7 linked regions of the Homo sapiens genome follow. The protein of the gene in region 2 purifies or fractionates together with the protein of the main gene of each other region. This does not show direct contact. Each region holds a gene or a part of one and is shown on either strand. Other genes may lie near its edges. The genes, in order: TES, ENSA, PPME1, CNKSR2, MTMR4, IREB2 and SCCPDH.

Region 1 (3,500 bases), on a different chromosome or scaffold from region 2:
AATTCTTGGTTTGTAAAAGGAAAGCTCGTCCACATCAGTTGTACAAATTGGGATTAATTACCAGTTAAAACCCACCATCACAAAGACAAGGGGTTTTTATAATTAGATTTTGCTATATTTTGTTTTGTTTGAAGAAAGCGAGCTGTTGCTAGGATGTGGGAGCTAGTTTGGTTATACAAAGTTTTTGTTTTAATAATACTTTAGAACAGAATTGATTCTATGTCCTTGCCCTGTCTTCTGAGTTACACATCTAGACCTCTTTCTTATTTTTTAAGTCTCATCTTAATTGGCTTTGTGTCAGTATGGTCCATGTCTGCTTGGGAAAAACAGTGGACTTTGAGAAGCAGAAACAGTCTCATTTTGCGGTGAATGGTAAATCATGGCCAACAGCCAGCTGTTTTCCTCTTTCCTTTCTGTGTTACTCTCCCATGAGAAATATTTTTTTTCAATTAAGAACATACCAACAGAGAAAGAGAACTACAATAATTTCCCTTTTACTGCCTGGAATTGCTGCAGGGCTTTTTCATTTTACCGTGTTCATTTTTTCTCTCCTCTAACCCCTTTATTTTGATTAATCCTAATATTTTGCATACTTTTCTTAAGACTCTTATTTCTTTAATTTTACTTTTTAAAAATATGATGCATTTTAAAGATTACATGTTACTAAAAATCCCCTTTCTCTGTATCCAAACTTGTTTTCAAAACCTTTGTCATTAGCCAAAAAAGCATAGTGAAACCAAATGAATACTATTGGAAAAAGGACTAAACTACAAAGATTATTTCCATTGGAAATTAGAATGAGTTATTTGCCTTAGGTAGCCCCTGGTTGAAGTGGAAAAGGCAATATATGGTGACCTGGATGCTCAAATCTACAATTGCATTCCAGGCTTGAAGCCATTCTTGCTGCAAGAACCATTGGCAAGACTAAGGGTAAAGGTAGGGCAAGGCACATCCAGGGCTTTGCTTTAGAGGTGTTCTGCCTCTCTGAACAAGTGCAGAAGAAAATGAGTGGTCCTCGGCCAGGCTTTTATAAAACTATTCTAACCCATGGTGTGATTCATTACATTGGTAGAATATGAAAAGTCCCTTTCTCTTAATTGTCCTGAATATTGGTTGGAGAAAAAAACTATAGTAGGTTTTCTATTGATTCTGTTCCTTTATGCTGTCCTATGAAGTAGAAATAGGAATTTATATTGCTACTGGCTATTACCTATGTCCCATCAACTCACCCTATGACTTTGCTTGTGCATGCCCATACTCCATCTACAGTTCTAAATTTTTTCCATCCTTCAAGGACCAACCCTTCACACTGCACACTCCTCTAGGAAATCTTTCTCCATGCTGCCACCTAGATGAAAAATATTTTCTCCTTTTCTCCTGAATTCCCAAAACATGTTATTGGTAACACTTAGGACACTAATCACTCTCCACCTCTGGATTATACTTATCTGTTGTATGTTTCACCTTCTTACCTTGCTTACAAACTTCTTGAGAGATGAATCCATATCCTGTTACACTTACGTGGTTATTTTGTTTGCTGTTCAAAGCAACCTTAGGAAGTAGGCCTTAGCCCCATTTTCAGGATGAAGAAACTAAAAGTTTAGATAGCGTAATCTGAAACCTTACTATAGAGAACTTTACTATGAACTTGAACCATAATTTGAAGAATCCATGCTGCTTCCATCATGCCAACTAGGCCGAGTCTTATATTCTTCATCTTGCTCACTAAATATATGTGGAATGATAACTGTTATAAAAAGAGAAATAAAATAAGGTACATTTCAACACTTTCACTCATTTTTTAAAGGAATTATATTTGAGGAAGTGGTTTATATTCCAATAAAATCACCATCCTGCTAGTTTTCTATATTTTGTTTCTACTTTGTCCATGTTGTATGTATTCCCTTTAGTGTAAGTTGCCATTGACATTCTTTGGGCAGAGGCAAAGTATACGAAAAGTAAAAGTATTGTGAAAAGGAGTTTCTGGGAAACTTCTACAGTCAAAGAAATAGCATAAACTCCAATAATATTCTGTACCTTATCTTCTAAGATTCTCCCAACTTCCTGACTTTTGGTGTGAGCCAATGGTAATGCTGTCTCCTAACTATGTAAAATGGCCCTAGGTAACAGTGACCCTGTATTTGGCTCTTTGTTTTGTTAAGTTTAACCAATGGCATCTGGAACTATAAAGGGATGCTCGTGGTCTTTTCTCGTGTTGAGCTCTGCAGTTGAGAGAAAGCCTTACACATAGCATGAGTAGGCTAAACCTCTTTTCCCTTGTAGCAAAGTGTTCAGAGTGCCTCTGGAGTGGCAGACCAGACAGCTAAGAATGGAGCAGCTAAAAAGAAACAAAAAACAAACAAAAAACCTCTTAATATTGGGAGAACTATTTTTTTGTTTTAATTTCCCATTCTTCATGCAAAAACATTTCTTATGAAGCTGAGAAGCTGTGGGAAACACCAAAATGATCAGATATTTCATGAGGCTCTCATGGAGCTCCAGAGTGACATCCAGCATTGTTAGCATGCGATCAACATCATAGACCATCAGTGTGCAACACGAGTTACCAAGAGGGGCTTTCTTAGTGGAAAGAGAGTGATAAATTGGTAACATGGAAGCTACTTCCTGTGTTCTTTTTCTGAGAACTAGAAGAAGGAATACAAGTTGGCCCCATGCTAATGTGTATATACCTTTTTTACATACCAATCACTAGTGTGTTTAGAAATTAGGAAAGGTCAGTAAGTCTCCAGTATATATAAACATCTATAGTGTATGGAAAGGTCTTCCATAGTGTATCCGTTTTCTCACTTCCATTTATCAGTATAATATATTTAAAATTGCCCTAAGCTGAGAGTTGGTAGATCCGAGTCCACTATTTTTTGTGATATTAACCACTTTGGCTATCAATTTCTATTTATATAAAAATCAGTAGGGGAACCAGATGATTTCTGAGGTTTCTCCAAGTCCTGTGACTCTTTGATCGTGGGAAATAATATCAGTAGTCTACCATGTGTAATGTTCCACAGTGCTTTAAAATCACACAAATGAAGAACATATATGTATAAATATATACATAAAGGAGATGGCATAGTTTAAATGTTAGTGAATTCCATGAAGAACCTATAGATTGAACCAAATAATTTTTTTCCACAAATCTTAGCTATTTTCAACTTGTTTGTACTTAATTTTCATAATATTTGTGGAGGTATTTGAAGATATTAGGTTAAGTTTAATTAATTTAAATCTGTAGTATAAGGCTCTGAAGGCTGTAATAGTGTGGGTCCCATAAGTCTAGGAGTGATGTATTACTTACCTTGGTATTTAATTATGGGAAAATGAAAAATAATGGAACATTTATTTTCTTTAAAAGTTATCTCTCTCAAAATAAGGCTGTTAAAATAATTTTAAAAGATTAAAAAAAAACTATATGAGTGCTTTTTTACGTACCATGCACTGTTCTAGACTCTGGGGTTATAGTTGTGAACAAGAATGACACTGAA
Region 2 (4,057 bases):
GGATTACAGGCGTGAGCCACTGCGCCTGGCCAAATTTTTTTTTTAAAAAACGATAATATAATCCCTCAGTCAGCTTTAGGTACCTTTGGGAACTAAAAATCTGATCAGGAGCTACATGGCTATGAAAGTAGACTCTCTCTTGGTAAGGAGGACCACTCTGAACAAGAAAAATACATTTGCTGCAGGAGTATAATTAATGGCTGGTGCTCACTTCAAGGGTATGAAGAAACTGATTCATTTCAAGTTGAGGATTTATTTCTGTAGGAGAGATGGTTTGATCTTCTTCTGAAATGATGCATCCCAAAATTTATCTCTAATGCTTAAAAAGTGCACAATCCTAAAACCTCCAACATTCAAACAGGCAAATGCCTGGGGGCAGTCTGCATTTCAGTTTCTAACATCTTTCCCTCATTTCCCCACACACCCAAATGCTCCAATTTAGGCCTTAATTTCCTACATGGGAAATCAGGAGGGAATTGATACCACATCAGGGATTTACATTAATTTGACTTGCTCTTTTCAAATTTCAAATTCGCCTCTACTTCTGTTCAACAACAAAACCTCCAGAAAAGGATCCAGTAGAACCTCTACAGACTTCATTCGAAGAACCTCCTTTAGCTCCAAAGAAAGAGGGTAAGAGACTATGCCCCATACCCCTTTCTGGAGTCTCTTCATGAGGAAGTCGGAGCCTCCAGGCTTTTGTCCTAGGCTTGGGTATTTGGCCTTTAGCTTTGCCTCTTCAGCTCTCTCAGGCAGAATACCTTCTTTCTCCTGCGTGTCCTGGAGAAAACAAATGAGCCAAATAAAATTAAAGACTGAGAAACAACAGCTTCTCACATCTGATAACAACTATACTATCAACTTCTCCTGGAAATCCACCCACTTGTAAATACGCTATCTCTACTCTGCTGTTAAAGCTAGACCTTTGTTAAAATCCCTAAAGCTCAAGATGACTATTGTGAGAGAAAAAGACAAGCTGCTTCTCACACTTCACCCAAGGAACCAGCCAGGGACCTGTGCGTATTGGGCTAAAGGTAATACTAAACACAATACTTTAATCACAGAGTGGGCCATATCACTCAGCACAAATGCTAAGAAAGACAAAGAGAAAAAAGCAGGGCTTCTGGTGATAGAGGATGAGTAGCAGGGTTCCCTAGGCTATCCTACATGTCACATGAGAAATTAAAAAAAAAATAGTTTGGGGCTGGGAGCAGTGACTCATGCCTGTAATCCCAGCACTTTGGGAGGCTGAGGCAGGTGCATCACTTGAGCTCATGAATTCACTACCCGCCTGGGCAATATGTTGAAACCCCGTCTCTACAACAACAAAAAATAGTTTGCTAAATGTTTCCTCCTTATTTTTTTCTTTCTTTTTTAAAATTGCTACACGACAAAGCAGTTCCTTCTTTATTCAAGGTCTAAGCCACCTGTTAGGTCTCCCTGTGGAGGCGGCTAGCTATGTGGCCTTCTCCAAAGATCTCCACCTGAGTAATGGCACAGCCTTGCTTCAACATTTCCACAAATATTATGGTAGCAAGCTGATAAACAGAGAGGAAAATGATACTGTTTTTAACCTCAGGAAAACAAAGATACAGTAGGCTCACTAGTATTTACCCACCAGTTTTCATCAAAAAAATCAATACCTACCCTGGTGGTGCAGGGACTCTCACTACTGTAGTCAATCTCTTTTTTTTTTTTTTGTGGTCCCTGCTGCCCTTTAGTGACTTTTTGAAAAGATATGAAGTCAACGTATGACTCTTTTTAGTGGAATTATATTCCTTTCTCTTGGAAATTACGCATAGATATAACACCAAGTGTATTTAATGAGTACCTGAACCCAGTACTAAATTTTAAAAGTCAAATACAAACCCCAATAAGGGGTTTATTTGGCGTTAGTGTTTCCATCACGGAATCGCAGGTGCACTAAGTCCCTGCCTTGGAAGTCTAGGGGAAGAGAGAAGTGTCTTTCTCACGACCCTGTCGGCGTCTTTTCCAAGTTTAATTACCATGATTCTGTTTGGAACTCTAGCCCTCTTCAATATTGCTGGGTCCTCACTGAAGGTGAGCAATAGACCATCCTTAGCTACTAAAATAGGTCTCTTGAGAAAGTTGCCGCCTTAAACTAGCCATTATAATAACTACACTTCTCCCCTCCCCCAATACTGGTTTTTTTTTAAACGTCTTTACCTCGACCCCTATCTTTGCGGATTGAGGCTGCGGGCCCCAGCCCGGTTGCTGGGTCACTTACCTCTACAAACCAATAACACACATCACACCCAAGACCACCAGCCATCCCCTTTCCATTCACCGTCTTTCCAACCACCCGCCCCACGTCCATGCTCGGCCAATTATAGCACAGCGTCCAAGGTTTGAGCGGTAGGCCTATTGGCCAATCAGGAAGAGTACAGTACTGAGTGACAAACGACCCAACTAACCAGCGCCAAAGCAGCATGTCGTGTTGAAGCTCACCCAGCGTGACGCAAAAAGTGGCCAACCCCTGCGGAGCCTGAGACCATGGCGACCAATCCGCACTGGTGGGAGACCGTCTCCCGCCCCATCACGGTCTCCCCAGCTCGCCCGCCCGCACCCCTTCCACTTCACCTGCTTCTCCTCGCCGGTCTCCTCCGCAGGGTTCTCTTCTTCTTGTTTCTGGGACATGGCGGGACCGGGACTGTGGAGTGTAAGGGGCCCGGGAAGGCAACCGGAGAAGGGAAGGGGGAGGGGAAACGGGGACAACCTGCGCTGCTGCTTCGGCTCCTGTCACTAGGGTTGCTCAGTCAAAATGGCGGCCCTTGCCCGTGACGTTGCGACCGCCCCTTCCTATGAGAGCCAGTGGGAGTGAGGTAGATAGGGCAATGACGTAACGATCTACCAATAGTCGCCGTCTAAAGGTGGGCTCTATAGAGGCGACCGGCAAGCTGGAACACCAACCTGGAAAGAGAGTGAGCCACAAGGACCAATTGGAAGCCTGTGGGGGATATCGGGGGCGGGGCTGCTGGCTGTGGTACTTTTGCAGCTTTGGTGGGCTCCGGCTTCCTTCACTCCAGCCCACCGCGTCCGAGAGACTTAGCAGGGCGTCAAACTGGAGAGCGGAAGGATGGAACCTTTTATTCTCAGGTGGAGAGGATTAAGCTTTGCGGTGTTAGCAGAAAATGATCGAGCTCCAGAAAATGATTTGGAGGTCAGATTCGATTTTAAAGTAGTACTAACAGGCCGGGCGCGGTGCCTCACGCCTGTAATCCTAGCACTTTGGGAGGCCGAGGTGGGCGGATCACCTGAGGTTAGGAGTTCGAGACCAGCCTGACCAACATGGTGAAACCCCGTCTCTACTAAAAATACAAATATTAGCCGGGCGTGGTGGCGGGCGTTTGTAATCCCAATTACTTGGGAGGCTGAGGCAGGAGAATCGCTTGAACCCTGCAGGCGGAGGTTGCAGTGAGCCGAAATCGCGCCACTGCACTCCAGCCTGGGTGACAGGACGAGACTTTGTCGCGAAAAATAAAATAAAACGGTACCAATGGTATTACGATGTGTCACTTGGCCTGTGGAAGAGAGAGACTGAGTCTCAACCCGAGCTGTCTTGCAAAACACTAATGGCTTACGTTCCGTAGTTTCACTCTTATGTGTAGTTTTTATATTCCATCAGGGTGATCCCTTGGGGACTACGCTCCTTGAAACAAGGAGGACAGTGTAAGTATGTGGTAAACATTTGGTAAATACGGTTAATACTAGTTAACCTATCCAGAATTACAGTTTAACATTTCCTGGGCGTCTGTCTGTATGTGGATGGTACTGTGTTAGTTGGGGGGGGTACGTGTATAGTAAGGCAGTCTCTGCCCTTAGAAAGCTTACAGGCCTGGCTGGGCGCGGTGACTCACGCCTGTAATGCCAGCACTCTGGGAGGCGTAGGCGGGCGAATCACTTGAGGTCAGGAGTTCGAAACCAGCCTGGCCAACATGGTGAAACCCTGTCTCTACTAGAAATACAAAACAAGGCTGGGCACGGTGGCCCACGCATGTAATCCCAGCACCTTGGGAGGCCGATGAGGGTGGATCAT
Region 3 (3,500 bases), on a different chromosome or scaffold from region 2:
CAAGGAACATTCAACATCATAAAAACGTTTATTCTAAATTAATGTTTGTATTTAATGTAATCCCAATAAAAATACTATCAGGATTTTTTTCTGGCACTAGTCTATGGGATTAGAAAGTTTATTTGTGAGAAAAAAACAAGAGGAACCACGAAAATCCTCAAAATGAATGAGGGGTAAACAACCTCTACCACCCATCAAAACATATTAATAAATCCTCTAATTAAAAGTACAGTAGTGGCACGTAAAAGAAACTCCACAGACCCGGATTTATATAGAAATTTGGCATATGACAAAGGTGTCATTTTAATCAGTGAGAAAGAAGACTTTTTTTTTTTTTTTTGAGACAAAGTCTCACTCTGTGTCCCAGGCTAGAGTGCAGGGGCATTATCTTGGCTCACTGCAACCTTTGCTTCCCGGACTCAAATGATCCTCCAGAGTAGCTGGGACTACAGGCACACACCACCACACCCAGCTAAATTTTTGTGATTTTTGTAGAGAAGAGGTTTCACCATGTTGTCCAGGCTGGTCTCCAACTCCCAAGCTCAAGTGGTCCACATGCCTTGGCCTCCCAAAGTGCTGGGATTACAGGCATGGACCACTGAGCCTGGCCAGGACTATTTCTTTATTGTAGTGAAATTTACGTAATGGGTAAAGGACTAAAAAATTTAATAAATGATGAAAACAACTAGATAGCCTTTGGATAAAAATAAAATGTCTTCTTTTCCTCACTTTGCATATCAAGATAAACTTCAAATGGATTAAAAAAAAATTGGCTCATGCCTGTAATCCCAGCACTTTGGAAGGCTGAGGTGGGTGGATTACCTGGGGCCAGGAGTTCAAGAGCAGCCTGGCCAACATAATGAAACCCCGTCTCTACTAAAAATACAAAAATTAGCTGGGTGTGGTGGTGCATGCCTGTAATCCCAGCTACTTGGGAGGCTGAAGCAGGAGAATCGCCTGAACCCGGGAAGTGGAGGTTGTAGTGGGCCAAGATCACACCACTGCACTCCATCCGGCCTCGGTGACAGAGCAAGACTCTGTCTCAAAAAAAAAAAAAAAAAAAAAAAGGACACTACACAGGTACCAGGAAAAAATATAAATGATTCCTTTATAACCCAAAAAAAGGAAAAGCCTTTCTGTGACTCAAGATCCAGAAGCAATACATGCTGGGAGGAAGGGAAGATGCTAATGAGTAACGAGTTTATGGGAGGATGAAAATGTTCTGCAATTAGTGGTGGTAATTGTACAACTGAGTGAATATACCAAAAATCACTGAATTGTACATTTAAAAGAGTGAATTCTATGGCATATAAATTTAACTTTTTAAAAATCTAATGAAAAAATAAAAAAAAAAACAGAAATACTGGGATTTGATTATTTTAGTAACTCAATTTGTGACCTTGAGCAAATCACTTCACTTTGCCCTTTATTTCCCCATCTGTGTGAATAGCTCATTAAAGCCTTCCTAAGAGGCCTGATATCCATAATAAATTTAAGAAGATGGATGAAAGACTATCTAATCAGATATGAATAAACATACAGCTTGTGGGGACAAAAAAGCTGATAACATAAGAAACTGAAAGGAGAGCTTCCACATAAACTATGAACCTTCTTCACAGTTCTCAATGTATAATTATCTACTAGCTATCATTCTTTAAGAGCTTATGTGTCAGTGTCAGGAACTATAAGTGCTTTTTATGTATTATCTTATTCTCACAGCACTCTCAGGTAAGCAGAAGTATTCTCATTTTAGAGATAAGAAAATAGACTATGAGAAGTTAAATGACTCGACCAATGTAAATACCTAAGTTGGGCTTCAAACTTAGATCTTTGTCACTTCAAATATCAAACCCTTCAATGCAAGCTATAGAAAGAACAATGGACTAAAAATACGAAGTCCTGGGTTTGAATGTTGTTCCTGCCACATAATGATTCTGTGATCTTAGGCAAGTCAATGAACATTTCAGTTTTCTCATTTATTAAAAGAAAATATTAACTCCTGCCCTAGTTTACCTCATAGAATATAAAAAGGGACTACTATATACATGTCAGTTAAATCACTACAGAGCTGGGCATGCTAGCATGTATCCTCAGTCCTACCTACTCAAGAGGATGAAGTGGGAAGACTGCTTGAGCCCACGAGTTTGAGGTTGTAATGCACCAAGATTATGCCTGTGAAAAGCCACTGTACTTCAGCCTGGGCAACACAGCAAGACTCTATCTCTTGCAAAAGAAAAAAAAAGGAATTTAAGAGATAATAATAGAAAAGTAGAACTTTTTTTTTTTTGAGATGGAGTTTCGCTCTTGTTGCCCTGGCTGGAGTGCAATGGCGCGATCTCGGCTCACCACAACCTCCGCCTCCCAGGTTCAAGTGATTCTCCTGCCTCAGCCTCCTGAGTAGCTGGGATTACAGGCATGTGCCACCACGCCAGCTAATTTTGTATTTTTAGGAGAGACGGTGTTTTTCTATGTTGGTCAGGCTGGTCTTGAACTCCCGACCTCAGGTGATCCACCCGCCTCGGCCTCCCAAAGTGCTGAGATTACAGGCATGAGCCACCACACCTGGCCAAAAAGTACAACTACTGATAAACCAAAAACACGTTGAATAATGAATGGCTTTAATATTTTATAGTTCCTCTAATAGTAATAGTATATACGAAAGCAGTGACTTTCAAAAGATACTTCTCTCAAGCACACCAGGGGTGCAAAGCAAATAGGGATCTCAAATCTACTTTAGTCAGAGTAGCTCTAAAAGCTTTAATAAAGAAGTTCAAAACCACTGTTTTTGGCAACATCCATTGGCATCTATTAAAAGGAAGAGTGACACCAGGATTTCAGGCCTTACCCAAGAGAAAATATTAGTGTACTGAAAAGTGAATGGATTCTAGAGACTAAACTTAGATTGAATCCTAGCTCTGCTACCTACTAGTTGGGTTACTTTTAATCTCTGGGTCTGAATGTCTTTACCCACAATGCAGGAAAATATTCACCATGCAGGTCTGTGGACACATTAAATAACATAAAGTTACCATTACAATGTCTGGCACACAGTACTTACTTTAAAAATTGCTATTATTAAATTATCCAACAATACTTTGGAATTACTAAATCTAATCTGAAAAACTGAATTATGGAAACTCATGAAAAATCACCAACTCAGAATATGCACCCTGAATATGCAAACATGCCTAAATAATGTTTAGTGAAATTGAAGGCAAGAGATCATGAAAAATAGTTAAGAGTAAGCCACACAAGAGACTATCAAGAGAACAGGACTAACTTGTGAGTAACATAGATAGAGTGGAAGAATGGAAGTTAAGAAAAAAGCAAGTAAGCATAAGGAGACATAAAGAATGCTTTGAAATTGGTGTGAGACTTCATAAATTACGACTGAAGAAAAAGACTGAATCCTAGATTATATGCAAATGAGTAAGATACACAACTCAAAATAAGTATCCCCAGATGACAATTATGACTCCAAAATACACAATGGGTCTCAC
Region 4 (4,163 bases), on a different chromosome or scaffold from region 2:
GAAATTTCAGCAGTAAGTAGTCTGGGATTTGAAATATACAGGTAATTATATCATTCATTCTCTTCCAGTCATATGTATACACGATACACAAACTATCTTGGCTACCCAATTGATCTTTTCAAATAGCTCTAAAATGCGTCACCAACAGGTATGAAAACAAGGTATTCGACTTACATTTAAAAAAAATTTTCAAATCACAGCTAACAATGTTAACCTAACTTCAAAGAAGCCACATTTTAGGCTGGAAAGATTTTTAAAGGACTGGTGTACTGGACAACTAATAATGTGTGTCAGAATAGGTGCATCATATATTCTACTTGCTTCAGTGGACCTAAACTATGGAGAGAGGGGAAACTGCAAGAATATAACTGGGAGGGTGGGAGGTGGAGACTGAGTATGCAGCACTCACTACAGGCATCATGGGAATTTGCGAAAGGTAGTCTATGAAGGTAATCAGACTCCCATGGAGCCAAGATAGCTTGTCTTTTAATATTTCAGCAACAGACTCAAACTAAAGTAACCTTTTAGACAAATTCAAAGAACGGGGTTTTAAGCATTGTTGCTTCCTGTATATACTCTGGCTCTTTCTTCCATCACTGAGAAACGGAGAAGGTGGAGAGTGAGGATAATTGGTGGGAATCTAAGATATTGGAATTTCAATAGCAAATACATAAAGAGAAAAAGCAGCAGCAAAGATGAGCCACTGCAGGACTTTGTCTTAGTCATCTTTATATCCCCCATGGCACCTTAGCACAATGCACTGCACACAGGGGTGCAGTCGATAAATAATGTATTAGGTTTAATTCAATTCACTCACATTTGTACTGCTTAGCAGTTACAAAGCAGTTTCCACATATTAGAAAAGAAAAGCAAAGTAAATGAGGAATAAAGGGGCAAGTAAGGGAATAAAAGGAAAGCAAAATAAAGAAAAATCCACAAGAATAAGCAAGCGGCCAAAAAGGCTGGGGAAAAGAATGAGCAAAAAAAATCAGTTTCTCCCTGTCACTCTCAATCCCTCCCAATCACCTCACCTTTCGTTCTAAATTATCTGGAGCTTAGAAAGTCTGACTGTTAAGTAAGCCCAAGAAGGGGCTCCTTCATCGTAGGAACGGGCATTTTCAGCGATAATAAGCCTTTGGTCCCTGACTGATCTACCTAGAGTTTGCTCAGGTATGACCTCGAGCAAAGCGCTAACATTTCCCAAGTGTGGCCACGCATCCTTTATTCCATTCCATCCCATCCATCCCCTCTTCAATTCCCAAAATCTTAGGGAAGAGTTGGGCCTGAGGATCCAAGGGGTTGGTGGGTGGGGGAGTCCTCTACAAGCCCCTTAACTCAGACAACAGAGGGAGGTAGTGAGACAGGAAAGCCCAGGGATCAGAAAAAAAGCTCACGTTTGCGATTAGGAGGGTGAGTGTCTATAACTGTGGTTATTATAAATCGCCAGGGACAAAAGGGGGAACCTTCAAGATGGAAGAAATGTGAAGGTACCTGAATGCGCATCACCTTACATCTGGCGTTGAGCCCTTAATAAAAAGCCGTGAGGTCCAAAACCTCGACTGGCTTGAAAGGGAGAAAGCAGAGAAGGCAAAGGATGCGAGGGGATGCGCTGGAGGCAGCCCAGAGACAGCAGCAAGGATGCTGTCCCAGGGGAAGCATGATGTCCTCACCCTCAAAGTAGCACATACCCCCACCCTGGGCATCCTCAGCCAAATCTGGGTGTGGGGGGATGCCAGGCTCCGAATGGGGGCGGCCGCGTCCTGACCCCATTATGTGGGCTAAAAGTTGCTTGGGAGAGTTGGCGCTGGGGAAGGCACCTGGCAAGGGCGGCCGCCGAGGGGGCGTCAGCTTTCCCAGGAACAAAGGGGCCAGGAAAGGGCGACCAGGGGAGCAGGTCCTGGGGGAGTCCACCCTGAGCTGGGAGATAAGGGTCGCCACGTCCTCCTGGCCCGGGGGCAGTAAGGGGAGAGGGGAGTACGCAAGATGCGCCGGTATTCTGCCTCCCGACTTCCTGCCTCCAACGGGGTGGCGCCCGCTGCCCTCTAGCTCTCTGGCCGCTCCGCGCCCCTCTAGCTGGAGACAAAAGGAGACCGGGGACCCCAGGCCCCTGCCAGTCCTGGAGGACCCCCGCCCCGACGCGTACGACGATCCGCCAGTGGAAGCCGCGGTGGCGGGCTCTGGCGCGGCGGGCGCCCCCTCCTAACCTCGCACTGGTGCCCCGCGCCCCAGTGCCGCCTCACCCTCCCCGCAGCGGGCATTACCTTTCATCCAGTCCACTACTTGACTCGGAGACCATTTGCTCACCGGTTCCATTATCAGAGCCATGGGTACGGGGTCGGTTCCGTGCAGAGCGCAGAGCTCAGACACAAAACGAACTCAGCAGCCCGAGCTGCTCTCAGGTGGGGTCCCTTGCTGGCCGCAGCCTCCCTGGGCGGGCGGCGCGGAGAAAGCGGCTTTTGTGTGTCGGGTCTCGCGGCTGTAACGTCTTTTAGCCAACCGCCGGCAGGAACGGCGACAGGGAGGTAAACGTGCAGGAGTCGTGGCTCCGCGCCGGGTCTGCTCAGTTCCCGCTAAGGCGGCGGCGGCGGCGGCTGCTGCTGCTGCTGCTGCTGCTGCTGCTGCTGCTGCCTCCGCCGCTCCGCTCCGGTCTCCGTCCCTAGGGAGCTTCAGTTCATAGCTTGAGTTGCTGAGGGGTCGCGTCGCCGAGGGAAGCAGCCTCTGCCGCACGCCCTCAGCCAACTTGCCCGCTCGCCTCACGCGCGGGAGTGAAGCCCCGAGCACGACTAGCTGCCCGGCGGAAATGACGAGGGGCCTCCTGCCACCCAAAATATCTCTCCGCAGCCCTCGGGTGCGGGGCGCGCGCGCCACGAGCCCCCCGCCCGCTCGCTGCCGCGCGGTCCCGCCCCCAGGGCCGACGGCAGGCGCGCGAGGCGCGTGCGCGTGCGCGTGCCGGCACGAGGCCGGAGCCCAGGGTCTGTCTGGCAGGCAGACAGGTGCCAGCAGCTCGCAGCCTGGCGTTCCCGCTCTGGGGGCCGTCCGGGAACAGAGGCGCGCGAAGTGCGCGTGCGCGGCGGCGGAGGCGGTGGCGGCGCGAGGCAGAGCCAGAGCCCGGGGTCGGTCAATCAGGTGCGGGCGGCTGGAGCATGGCTTTGTGAGGCCTCTGAGGGGACCCGGCGGTGGCGGCCACGGCGGGACGGGCCGCCCACCAGTTGAACTCCGACAGCTGAGGCGGCTGAGGAGGTATCCGCGGCCCCACCACCGAGGGGAGGGGGACACCACTGAGCGCGGGGCTTACAGCGAGAGCCCGGGCTTTCCTGGCTCTCGCTTTCGCCCTCGCCCTCCCCGCTGCTGAGTGGGCTCCGGAGGTGATTCCCGAGACCCGCGTACGCCTGCAGAGACGGAGGTGTGGACTGCCGTGGACGAGAACGGGGCTCCGCCTGCCAGAAGCGCAGCGATGATGAGGCAGGAGGGCTAGTGCTGTCGGATCTTCCCCGGGTGATGAGCGGGTCCTGGGAAGTCAGGCGTTGAGGCTGTCACCTGCCAGCTGCTGGTTGTGGTGATCCTGAGACAGGTTCTGCCCCAAGTACCATTTTAAAGGGCTCTGTTTCAGGTTTTGGGCCAACTCCTCTAAAGTACCTATTTTAGAGAAGTCATTTTGTGTTTGATATTCTTATATATTAATAAGAACCGAAGGGCAACAATGGGATTTAAAATGAGTGACAAATTGTAGACATGATTTTTCAAAACTCATTTTCTTCAAAAACCATACACAGGCTACTATGCAACGGTTAGTAAAATACAGTTTGCCTAATGAGGCTTCACTTTAAAAGACAAATATTCCTAGAGTGTAGATGCTAACTCTCTGCCACCGTTATAGGCGTTTTCTCTATCATTCTTAAATAGGTCCATTAAGTAAAAGAAACTTTTTAAATAAGCATTCCAGTAATGTCAATAGGTTTTGCCAGTTCCTATGGTAACCCATTTTCTCTAGTCCAATTTTATAAGATGCAGAAATGTCACGTTCTTTAACCGGCATGAGTTGACGACACCCTTCCCCCCCACACACACACACACAAACAGCTGAAACCACAGTAGTTAAAATATTGTGACGTTTTTAACTGCTGATTTCAATGCTAGTGATAGCGAACAAGTAAAATTTAAGA
Region 5 (3,500 bases), on a different chromosome or scaffold from region 2:
GTTTTAGGGTCTTTTGAACTAAGTCATTGTGAGGGGACCGTGATAGGTTTCAGGATTTCAGTGATTTTTTTTTTCCTTCCCCAAACTATGCAGAATTTGGCTACAGGTTCATAGGTTTACTTTTCCTGGGAGAGGGGCCATAACTTTTAATCAAATTTTTAATAAGCTCTGTGACCCATTTAATAATCATTTCATTAACTTAGTATCTGATTTATCAATTCAACAAATGTTTCTTTAATACCTACAAGTTGCGTATTACTGTACTAGGTTTTGTGGGCTACAGCAAAGAAATAGAAGATATTGGTTCTACTTTCAAGATAATTTTAAGCTGTAAGATAAGACACAGAACAACTAGAGAGAGCAATTCTTTTTTTTTTTTTTTTTTTTTTTTGAGACAGAATCTCGCTCTGTCACCGGTTGGAGTGCAGTGGCGCAATCTTGGCTCACTGCAACCTCCGCCTCCCGGGTTCAAGTGATTCTTCTGTCTCAGCCTCCCGAGTATCTGGGACTACAGGTGCCCACCACCACACCTGGCTAGTTTTTTGTATTTTTAGTAGAGACGGGGTTTCACCATGTTGGCCAGGATGGTCTCGATCTCTTGACCTCGTAATCTACCCGCCTCGGCCTCCCAAAGTGCTGGGATTACCAGACCCGGCCAACTAGAGAACAATTCTAAGTCAACATCTAAGCAGATAAGAATGTGTGTAGTTCAGGCTGGGTGCAGTGGCTCATGCCTGTAATCCCAGCACTTTGGGAGGCCAAGGTGCGCAGATTGCTTGAGCCCAGGAGTTTGAGACCAACCTGGGCAACATGGTAGAACCCCACCTCTACAAAAAATGCAAAAATTAGCCAGGCATGGTGGCGTGCGCCTGTGGTCCCAGCTACTTGGAGGGCTGACGTAGGAGGATTGTTTGCTCCCAGCAGGTTGAGGCTGCAGTGAGCTGTGATCATGCCATTGCACTCCAGCCTGGGTGACACAGCGAGACCTTGTCTCAAAAAAACAAATGTGTGTAGTTCAAAGCTTTAGAGAAATGATGTGTTTTTTAAAAGGGTCACTTGGTGGCTGTTTTACTCAGGAAATTTTCATGAAGGACCAGACAAGAACTGTGGGTCTTTTTGTGTTCTGTGTATCTGGCTTAGAACCTGGCACGTAATAAGTAAATTTAAATAAATTTACTAAAGTAAAAATTTACTTAAAACTGGACAAATGGCTGGGCGTGGTGGCTCATGCTTGTAATCCCAGCACTTTGGGAGGCCGAGGCGGGCGGATCATGAGGTCAGGAGATCAAGACCATCCTGGCTAACACGGTGAAACCCCGTCTCTACTAAAAATACAAAAAAAAAAAAAATTAGCCGGGCGTGGTGGCAGGCGCCTGTAGTCCCAGCTACTCTGGAGGCTGAGGCAGGAGAATGGTATGAACCTGGGAAGGCGGAGTTTGCAGTGAGCAGAGATCGCGCCACTGCACTCCAGCCCGGGCAACAGAGTGAGACTGTCTCAAAAAAAAAAAAAACTGGACAAATGAATGAAATAAAGGGAGTTGTGAGCTCAGTAACAAGGTTAGTGGAGAGGGGTCCAAAGCAAGTGGATACATGAGAGGTAGGGTTTTCTCGCTCCATTGCCCAGCTGGAGTGCAGTCACATGATCTTCTCAGCTCACTCCGCCCACCGGGTTCAAGTGATTCTTCTGCCTCAGCCTCCCGAGTAACTGGGATTACAGGTGTGTGCCACTACACCTGGCTAATTTTTGTATTTTTAGTAGAGACGGGGTTTCGCCATGTTGGCCAAGCTGGTCTCGAACTCCTGACCTCAAGTGATCCGCTCACCTTGGCCTCCCAAAGTGCTAGGATTATAGGTGTGAGCCACTGCACCTGGGTGAGAGGTAGTTTTTTTTTTTTTAAAAAAAAAAGAAGTTCTGTGGCTGGCAGGGGTTGAGAAGGGGCTATTTTAAGGAATAGTGGAAATATAGGACAGGTCATTGAGGGCATTGAAGGCTTTAAACATTACAGTGAAGAGTTTATTTTGATTCAGTTGTCAATAGGAAGTCATTGTAGGAAGTTACTGTGGTCTGCTGACAGTGGGATCCTTGGAGAACTAATCAGTGAGTACAGGGTAGCTGGAGGCACAGAGACCAGCCAGCACTGCTGTAGTAGTTCAGATATGAGGGGAAGAGTCCCTGGCAAAGAGAAAGGATTAAATTCAGAAGCACTGTAGAGAACCATTGGCAGGCTACAGAATTGAAAGTTGGAGAGTAGAAGTGAAAAGTACTTTGGGTCCCAAGTATCTGAGCTTAAAAAGTAGGAGAATATTAGTACCACTAATAGACATTGAAAGGTCGAGAAGACCAGCCAGTTTGGGGAGAAAGCGGAGATACAGGGAAATTGGGATTGAAATATTAGTTGACAGCAAAGAAGGAGGTGTGTTGTAGGCAGCTCAAGATGGAGAGTAGATTTCGAGAAATAATTGGTATAAAGATTTTAAAGGAAATGGTCTCTGTAACAACTGACCTGACTTACCTTTGATTCTACCTTTCCCTAGATCAAAAATGTCCTTCTTCTTCTCCTTCTTCTCCCCCTCCTCCCCCTCCTCCCCCCTCCTCCCCCCTCCTCCCCCGCTTCTCCTTCTCCTTCTCCTCCTCCTTCTTCTTCTTCTTCCATTAAAGTCATAAACACATTCTTCTATACCCATCTCAAATCCTACCCTCTCTCTGTAGCCTTCCTTGACCTCCTAGCTGGATGAGCTCTCTCTCCTTGTTGTAAACTCAGGTATTATTATCTCTGTCAACATTGCTGACTAACCTTTGGTACACATAGAATGAGTTGTGGAGGATGGCAGAATGTTGTTATTTGAATTTGGATGAAGAGCACATGGAAGTTAATTATATTCTTCTTTTTGTTGTTGTTTGAGACAGAGTCTTGCTCTGTCACCCAGGCTGGAATATAGTGGTGCGATCTCGGCTCACTGCAACCTCTGCCTCTTGCCTCCCAGGTTCAAGCGATTCTCATGCCTCAGCCTCCCAAGTAGGAGCTGGGTTTACAGGCATGCACCACCATGCCCAGCTAGTTTTTGTATTTTTAGTAGAGATGGGATTTCACCATGTTGGCCAGGCTGGTCTTGGACTTGTGGCCTCGAGAGATCTGCCTGCCTTGACCTCCCAAAGTGTTGAGATTATAGGCATGAGCCACTGTGCCCAGCATATTCTTTACTTCTTTTGTATGCTTGAAAGTTTCCATAATAAAAAATAAAATGAAAGAAGTCAGCTGTGGCACTTAAAAGAATACAGATCCCTAGGCCCCACTCTTGGCCATTCTTATTCAGTAGGTCTTGGGTGGACCCTGGTTGTCTGGATGTCTAAGAAGATCCACTAAGATGCCTGATGTGTATCACACATTCAATTGGCACCTAGCAGTGGAAACCTCATGTTGTATTTTGAGCTCATTCATTCATTTCTCAAGTCATTTGCCCCTGGTACTGTGCTAGGCGCTGGGGATTCAAATAAGACA
Region 6 (3,500 bases), on a different chromosome or scaffold from region 2:
CATATTTACATATATTTTTGTATACACATAAAAATGAGACTTTCTGTACCATCTGCAATGTTCTTGTCTTTTTGTGATTCTTCTAAATGATAAAAACTCTCCTAAAAAATTAAATACAGGATTTTCTTCCAAAGGCTGCAAGGTAGGATTTGGACACTAAGTCCCGGCTCTACTGGAGGACTAAGCAGTACTGTGGTTAAAAAGGCAAGCAGACAGGAAGGACAAAAGAAAGGGTGAATAAGATGACCTGAGATAAAGGGTGCCTGGGGGCTTTACACCACCAGAGGCCCTGTTGCCCAGTAACAGGTACTCTCTCAAAACTACCTTTCACTCCAGCCAGGCCAGTCTCTCCACCATCTTCCCCTTCATTCAACATAGTCATTCATGTTTCCATTATGCTGTTCATTCTAATTCTCTGATGTTAACTGTCCTCCATCATACATGGAGACACCACTGATTTCTCCACTCCTTAAAAATAGCAATAGTTTCAAATTCAGAGATCTACTTAAGAGAGTCACCCAAATCAGCTACTTGAGAGGGTGAGGTGGGAGGATCTCCTGAGCTCAGGAGTTCAAGGCTCCAGTGAGCTATCATCATGTCAGAGCACTCCAGCCAGGTTGACAGTAAAACTCCATCTTTATAATTTTTTTTTTTAAAGAGTTACTCAAAATCTACATTTTGAGACTACCTAGATTTTGACATGTTTCTAGTCAGCACATTGGGAGTGCCAGACAGCCAGCTCCAGAATATTAAAGAGATTCCCCACAACTGGCTGCGTGCAGTGGTTCACGCCTATAATCCCAGCACTTTGGGAGGCCAAGGCAGGAGGACTGCTTGAGGTCAGGAGTTTGAGACCAGCCTTGTTAATATGGCGAAACTCCATCTCTACTAAAAATAAAAAATCAGCCGGATGTGGTGGCACACACCTGTAGTCCCAGCTACTTGGGAGGCTGAGGCACGAGAATCGTTTGAACCCTGGAGATGGAGGTGGCAATGAACCAAGATCATGCCACTGCACTCCAGCCTAGGTAACAGAGCGAGCCTCTGTCTCAAAAAAACAAAACAAAATAAAACAAAAAACAAAAAAAACCCCACAAAAAATAAAAAAACAAAGGAGATTCCCCACAAGCAAAATCATACAAGATCAAAATGTAATCAATGTCTAAGATGTGCCCACTTCCATAGAGATACCCTGAGTATAAATTTGGGAAGCAAAAGGATAAAATGGCAGTAAAAAAGCAGAAATCAAATAATCTGTGTTGAACTCTATCTAAAGTCAGAATAAGAGAAGGCATCAGGTTGGTAACGCAGATAGATTAGGCTGGTTCACTCACCACCCACTCCCAACCACTTCTCCCTTTCCTTTCTCTATTGTAAAAGATGTAAAGGTAAAATACAGTACCCCATCTTATCTATGGTTTGGCTTTCTGTGGTTTCAGTTACCTGCAGAACAGCACAATAAGATACTTTGAAAGAGAAAGACCATATTCACATAACTTTTATTACAGTACATTGTTATAACTGTTCTATTTTATTATTAGTTATTATTAATCTCTACTGTGCCTCATTTATAAATTAAGTTTTATCATAGCTATGTATGTATAGAAAAAAATATATACCAAACAGTACATACACGGTTTGGTAGTACCCATAGTCTCCGGTGTCTACTGAGGGTCTTGGAACATATCCCCCATGAGTAAGAGAAGACCTTGATTATTCCATCTTTCAGCCTTCTTGAAGCTAAGAGTGGCCACTGATACTTTGGCCAAAGAGGCAAAAGCCCCTGGAGAGGGCTTTTATCATGGTTATAAAAACTGGTAATTCTGGAATTATGTTAAGTACACATGTACTCTGTACAGTTATGTACAAATTCCCATGACAGCTTATTTCCCAGGGAAAATTTAACTTGGACATAATGCCTGGAGGTGCAACCAAAAGAATAAAAACAGAACGGGAAGAAAGGACGAGCCTAGATCCTTGCGGAGATTGGTGCTGCACAGCCCCAGTCTGCCAATCTCCACACTTCGTTATGTTAGAAAAATAAACTCGTATTTCTTAAAGTCATTGGACAGCAAGTTTTCAGTTCTTTGCAGCTGCAGGCATCCCTGACATAGTCAGCATGGAGCTTAGAACAGTGTTTCTCAACTATCTTTACTCTGTAACATTTATGAGGGATAGAATCCATTCCCTTCATTAATCGTTACTCATTACAACAGTCATTCTCAACCTAGCAGGCATCAAAATGTGGAATGGAGGTGGAGAAGACTGGCTCTGTACCTTGGTGACTACCAAAGCAATGTCTTCTTGTAAGCATATGTCTAGGAGGCAATTCAATCTGATCCTTTCAAAAATGCAATAAGGATTTTTTGTTCTAAGGTTAAACAACCAAATACTTCCTACCTAACTTGTTCCTTTCTTTCAAAGTCAATTCTTCAAATTTTATTCCTTATTAGGAAATTACTTAAGTAATTATTACTTAATAACCTCTCATAATAAGCACTCTATTAAAAAAGCAGGAGGGGCTGGGCGCAGTGGCTCACTCCTGTAATCCCAGCACTTTGAGAGGCTGAGGTGGGTGGATCACTTGAGGTCAGGAGTTTGAGATCACCCTGACCAACATGGTAAAACCACCATCTCTACAACTAGCTGGGTGTGGTGATGCACGCCTATAGTACCAGCTACTTGGGAGGTTAAGGCACGAGAATCGCTTGAACTCAGGAGGCAGAGGCAGCAGTGAGCTGAGATCACACCATTGCACTCCAGCCTGGGTGACAGAGCAAGATCCTGTCTCAAAAAAATAAGTAAAATAAAATAAAATAAAATAAAATAAAAACCAGGGTACTGACCCCACATAAAAACCAACTTTCTGTTTTGAAAGTATTTATAGTCACAGGTATTCTATTATTACATTTATCATGGTTATAAAAACTGGTAATTCTGGAATTATGTTAAGTACACATGTACTCTGTACAGTTATGTACAAATTCCCATGACAACTTATTTCCCAGGGAAAATTTAACTTTCAGATTATCAATCATTCCCTTTCAATGCATTTTACAGTTGTTTTTGACAGTTTCCTACTGATTCCTTAAATTTGAGAAATTTAGGTCATCTTCCTTCAAGTAAGCACATTTCTACAGATTATACACAGAAAGTATTTATACTCAATTTTCAAAACATCTTATGTGCTCCTTTAATTTATTAAACTATGAAATTTGGGTTAAAAGACTTCCAAGCCAGTATCACTAGATTATTTTGGAGAAGTAAATGGGAAATAAAATGACTATTCTTGTAAACGATCAATCTAGCTGTTTCTTTTCAAAATTAATGCAAACTCACCATCAGTGAAGGGATAAAATTAATGTGAAAGACATACATTAAGAAAATGACCAACTTCCTTTAACAAACGTATCAACACAAATCACTGCAGCTAAACATGCAAGGTAAAGGATATTGCTCTCATTTTGGCAAACTGTTTATTTTTAAATGACAGCCTAATT
Region 7 (3,500 bases), about 96 Mb from region 2:
GGGAGCACTGCCTGAGCCCAGGCATTCGTTACGGTGAGCTACGGCAGAGCAAGATCCTGTCTCTTAAAAAACTTTTTAAAATGGCACTGGATTAAAATTTTATATAGTATTTTCTTTTTACTTTTAATTTCATAAGCAAGATTTGTAGTTTGTGTGTGTGTGTGCTATCTTTGTTGGACTTTGGTTTCATAGTTATGCTAACTTTTTAATATATGCTGGAACATTTTCCAATTTTTTAAGTCTAGAACACTTTATATGGTACTGAAGTTACCTGTTTCAGTTTTGTTTTTTGTTTTTGTTTTTTTGTTTTTTTGCTTTTTTCTAAGAGACAAGGTCTCACTCTGTAACCCAGGCTAGAGTGCAGTGGTGCAATCATAGCTTACTAAAGCCTCAAACTCCTGGGTTCAAGTGATCCTCCTACCTCAGCCTCCTGAGGAGCTGGGACTGACTACAGGTGTGCACCACCACACCTGGCTAATTTTTTTTTATTTCTTAGGGACGAGTCTTACTATGTTGCCCAGGCTGGTCCTGAACTCTTGGCCTCGAGAGATCCTGCTGCCTCAACCTCCCAAGTAGCTAAGATTATGGGTGTAAGCCACCACACCCTGCTCAGGTAATTTTCTAAACCAGACACTCTTAAATATGCAAAACATCAGTAACTTCAAATGTTTTATCGTAACATTATTTTCTCCATTCTTAAATAAGTGTCTCCAATTCTGTGTTCAATACTTTCTAGCTTTGACGGTTAAAAATTTAAAACCTTTTAACTATAATATACAAATTATGCTTTAAAATGTGCTGATTCCTAAACAAAGCAAGTTTGAATTTATAACGTTGCCAAAGTTGTTTTCCAGAAATTTTACAGCCCAAACTATACTGAGACAATAATATATCACTGTAAAATACAGTATTATCCATGTCTCAACAATAGTCTCAATAGCATTTTATTAAAAGTGCAGCTATATTAAAAACAAAACATGTGTTTAATATTACCCATTTATGGCTATGTTTCTTTTTTCAACTAGATTTTAGTTCACCACAGTTAGAAACATGAAGCCTTTGCACGGTACTGTTAAATTCCATTATTGCTTATTGATCAATAATTACCATTCATTTTATTTCTGGTATATATTACTCCCAGATCTGCTGGAATGGAGTCAAAGCCGCTGCTTCCAATGATATAAACCCCTTTGTCTGCAGCTTTCTCATGATACTTCAGTTGCATTAGTTCCAGAAACTAAAAAATCCAGGATAAGAATTTTAATTAGTTATGCAGAAAGATGTAGACCAGTATTAAATAATTTATCTTTAAAAACAAAGCAACCAAACTTTGAAAATGCTAAGCAGTGTGGCTCTGCAGCAAAACATTAACTGTCAAAATATTTTCCACTTATTCGGCAAATACAGCGCCTACTGCACACCAGGTGGTACAGAAGTTGTGCTCGTCTGACTGTATGACACTTAATTTTTTTAGAATGACTTTTAAATATAAAAGTAATGCCTATTATAAAATATTAAAATATAAAAAATAGAAAGCAAAAAAAAAATGACCCCAAACAGCATTACCCAGATGAACATCATCACAGACATAAAGCTCCGCACACGTACAGACAGAGAGCAGGAAAGTAGATGGTGGCAGAGGGCACAGGGGAATAATGTCTGCTCTGCTCTTCTGCCTGTTTTTAGAAATTCCTTTTTAAAAACAGTTTAAGATTTACAGAAAAATTGAATAGTAGAGAGTTCCCAAGTACTCTGAAACCCAGTTTTCTCTATTTTTAACATCTTTTACATGAACAGTGGTTACAATTAATGAACCAGTACTGACATATATGATTTAATTCACTAAAGTTCACAGTTCATTCTGATTCCCTTAGTTTTAACTGAACCCCTTTTTCTGCTCCAGGATCCCATCCAGGATTACATTCGGTTGTTACGTCTCCTTCGGCTTCTTTTGGCTGCGACGGTTTCTCACACTTTCCTTGTCTCTGATGACCTTGATGGTTTTGAGGAGTACTGGTCAGGCATTTTGTAGAGTGCCCCTCTACTGGAATTTGTCTCATGCTTTTCTCATTATTATTATGAGTTTTGGAAAGAGACCACAGGGGTAAAGTGCTATTCTTATCATATCATATCACATCGGGGCTACGCACTGTCAACATGATTTACCAGGGTTAATGCTGACTTGAACACCTGGCTGAGGCAGTGTTCACCAGGTTTCTCCACTGTCAATTTATGCTCCCTCTCCCAGAAGGTGACACACAAACACAATCACACCTGTTCAAGCACATACCAGACACAAACACACACCACACACACCCATTCATGCACATACACAAACACACACGAACACAATCACACACACACACTTGCTCATGCACACACAAACACATTAAGTCACACTAACATAGTCACACACATACAAACACATTAACACACTCAGTCACACACACAGCTGCTTGCACATAAATGTGGAGAAGCTACATAAATCATTTGGAATTCTTCCACAAAGAAGATTTGTCTCTTCTCATCCCTGCCTTTTTGGTTTTGTTTTGTTTTGAGACGGAGTCTCGCACTGTTGCCCGGGCTGGAGTGCGATGGTGCAGACTCGGCTCACTGCAACCTCCACCTCGCGGGTTCAAGCGATTCTGCTGCCTCAGCTTCCCGAGTAGCTGGGTTTACAGCACCTGCCACCACGCCCAGCTAATTTTCTATTTTTAGTGGAGACAGGGTTTCTCCATGTTGGTCAGGCTGGTCTCAAACTCCTGACCTCAGGTGATCCACGTGCCTCGGCCTCCCAAAGTGCTAGGATTACATCCCCTGCCCATTTTTAAAATAAATTGTCTTTATTTCTATTATTGTCTTGTAAAAGTTCTTTAAATACTCTGGGTTTTTTTTTTTTGAGACGGAGTCCCACTCTGTCGCCAGGCTGGAGTGCAGTGGCATGATCTTGGCTCATTGCAACCTCCGACTCCCAGGTTCAAGCGATTCTCTTGCCTCAGCCTCCCAAGTAGCTGGGACTACAGGCGTGCACCACCACGCCCAGCTAACTTTTGTATTTTTAATAGAGATGGGGTTTCACCATGTTGGCCAAGATGGTCTCGATCTCTTGACCTCGTGATCCGCCTGCCTCGGCCTCCCAAAGCACTGGGATTACAGGTGTGAGCCACCGCACCCAGCCCTCTGGTTCTTTAATAGGTTTGTTGTTGTTGTTTTGAGACAGGATCCGACCCTGTTGCCCAGGCTGGAGTGCAGTGGCGCAATCTTGGCTTACTGCAACCTCCAACTCCTGGGTTCAAGTGATTCTCATGCCTCAGCCTTCTGAGTAGCTGGGATTGCAGACGTGCACCACCATGCTTGGCTGATTTTTGTATTTTTAGTAGAGATGGGGTTTCGCCATGTTGGCCAGGCTGGCCTCAAACTCCTGGCCTCAAGTGATCCACCCACTTTGGCTTCCCAGAGTGCTGAGATTACAGGTATGAGCCAACGTGCCCAACTCCTTA

What was found.
Region 1: the proteins of ENSA (region 2) and TES fractionate together in Homo sapiens (co-fractionation; one large-scale study listed by BioGRID). This does not show direct contact.
Region 3: the proteins of ENSA (region 2) and PPME1 purify together in Homo sapiens (affinity purification with mass spectrometry; one large-scale study listed by BioGRID and IntAct). This does not show direct contact.
Region 4: the proteins of ENSA (region 2) and CNKSR2 purify together in Homo sapiens (co-immunoprecipitation; one large-scale study listed by IntAct). This does not show direct contact.
Region 5: the proteins of ENSA (region 2) and MTMR4 purify together in Homo sapiens (affinity purification with mass spectrometry; one large-scale study listed by BioGRID and IntAct). This does not show direct contact.
Region 6: the proteins of ENSA (region 2) and IREB2 purify together in Homo sapiens (affinity purification with mass spectrometry; one large-scale study listed by BioGRID and IntAct). This does not show direct contact.
Region 7: the proteins of ENSA (region 2) and SCCPDH purify together in Homo sapiens (affinity purification with mass spectrometry; one large-scale study listed by BioGRID and IntAct). This does not show direct contact.

What each region holds. Positions count from the first base shown.
Region 1 is NC_000007.14:116,213,539-116,217,038, forward strand, and holds part of TES (testin), read left to right. Parts: intron 1-3,500. UniProt on the Homo sapiens protein: Scaffold protein that may play a role in cell adhesion, cell spreading and in the reorganization of the actin cytoskeleton. Plays a role in the regulation of cell proliferation. May act as a tumor suppressor. Inhibits tumor cell growth.
Region 2 is NC_000001.11:150,626,813-150,630,869, forward strand, and holds the start of ENSA (alpha-endosulfine), read right to left. Parts: upstream 2,801-4,057; 5' UTR 2,659-2,800; coding exon 2,602-2,658; intron 2,328-2,601; exon of another isoform or gene 2,294-2,327; coding exon of another isoform or gene 2,249-2,293; intron 781-2,248; coding exon 655-780; coding exon of another isoform or gene 520-654; exon of another isoform or gene 234-519; intron 1-233. UniProt on the Homo sapiens protein: Protein phosphatase inhibitor that specifically inhibits protein phosphatase 2A (PP2A) during mitosis.
Region 3 is NC_000011.10:74,174,289-74,177,788, reverse strand, and holds part of PPME1 (protein phosphatase methylesterase 1), read right to left. Parts: intron 1-3,500. UniProt on the Homo sapiens protein: Demethylates proteins that have been reversibly carboxymethylated. Demethylates PPP2CB (in vitro) and PPP2CA. Binding to PPP2CA displaces the manganese ion and inactivates the enzyme.
Region 4 is NC_000023.11:21,373,060-21,377,222, reverse strand, and holds the start of CNKSR2 (connector enhancer of kinase suppressor of ras 2), read right to left. Parts: upstream 2,801-4,163; 5' UTR 2,326-2,800; coding exon 2,262-2,325; intron 1-2,261. Other genes in the region: uncharacterized protein LOC105373146, read left to right, coding at 2,801-3,240.
Region 5 is NC_000017.11:58,497,639-58,501,138, reverse strand, and holds part of MTMR4 (phosphatidylinositol-3,5-bisphosphate 3-phosphatase MTMR4), read left to right. Parts: intron 1-3,500. UniProt on the Homo sapiens protein: Lipid phosphatase that specifically dephosphorylates the D-3 position of phosphatidylinositol 3-phosphate and phosphatidylinositol 3,5-bisphosphate, generating phosphatidylinositol and phosphatidylinositol 5-phosphate.
Region 6 is NC_000015.10:78,441,216-78,444,715, reverse strand, and holds part of IREB2 (iron-responsive element-binding protein 2), read right to left. Parts: intron 1-3,500. UniProt on the Homo sapiens protein: RNA-binding protein that binds to iron-responsive elements (IRES), which are stem-loop structures found in the 5'-UTR of ferritin, and delta aminolevulinic acid synthase mRNAs, and in the 3'-UTR of transferrin receptor mRNA.
Region 7 is NC_000001.11:246,737,909-246,741,408, reverse strand, and holds part of SCCPDH (saccharopine dehydrogenase-like oxidoreductase), read right to left. Parts: intron 1,238-3,500; coding exon 1,108-1,237; intron 1-1,107.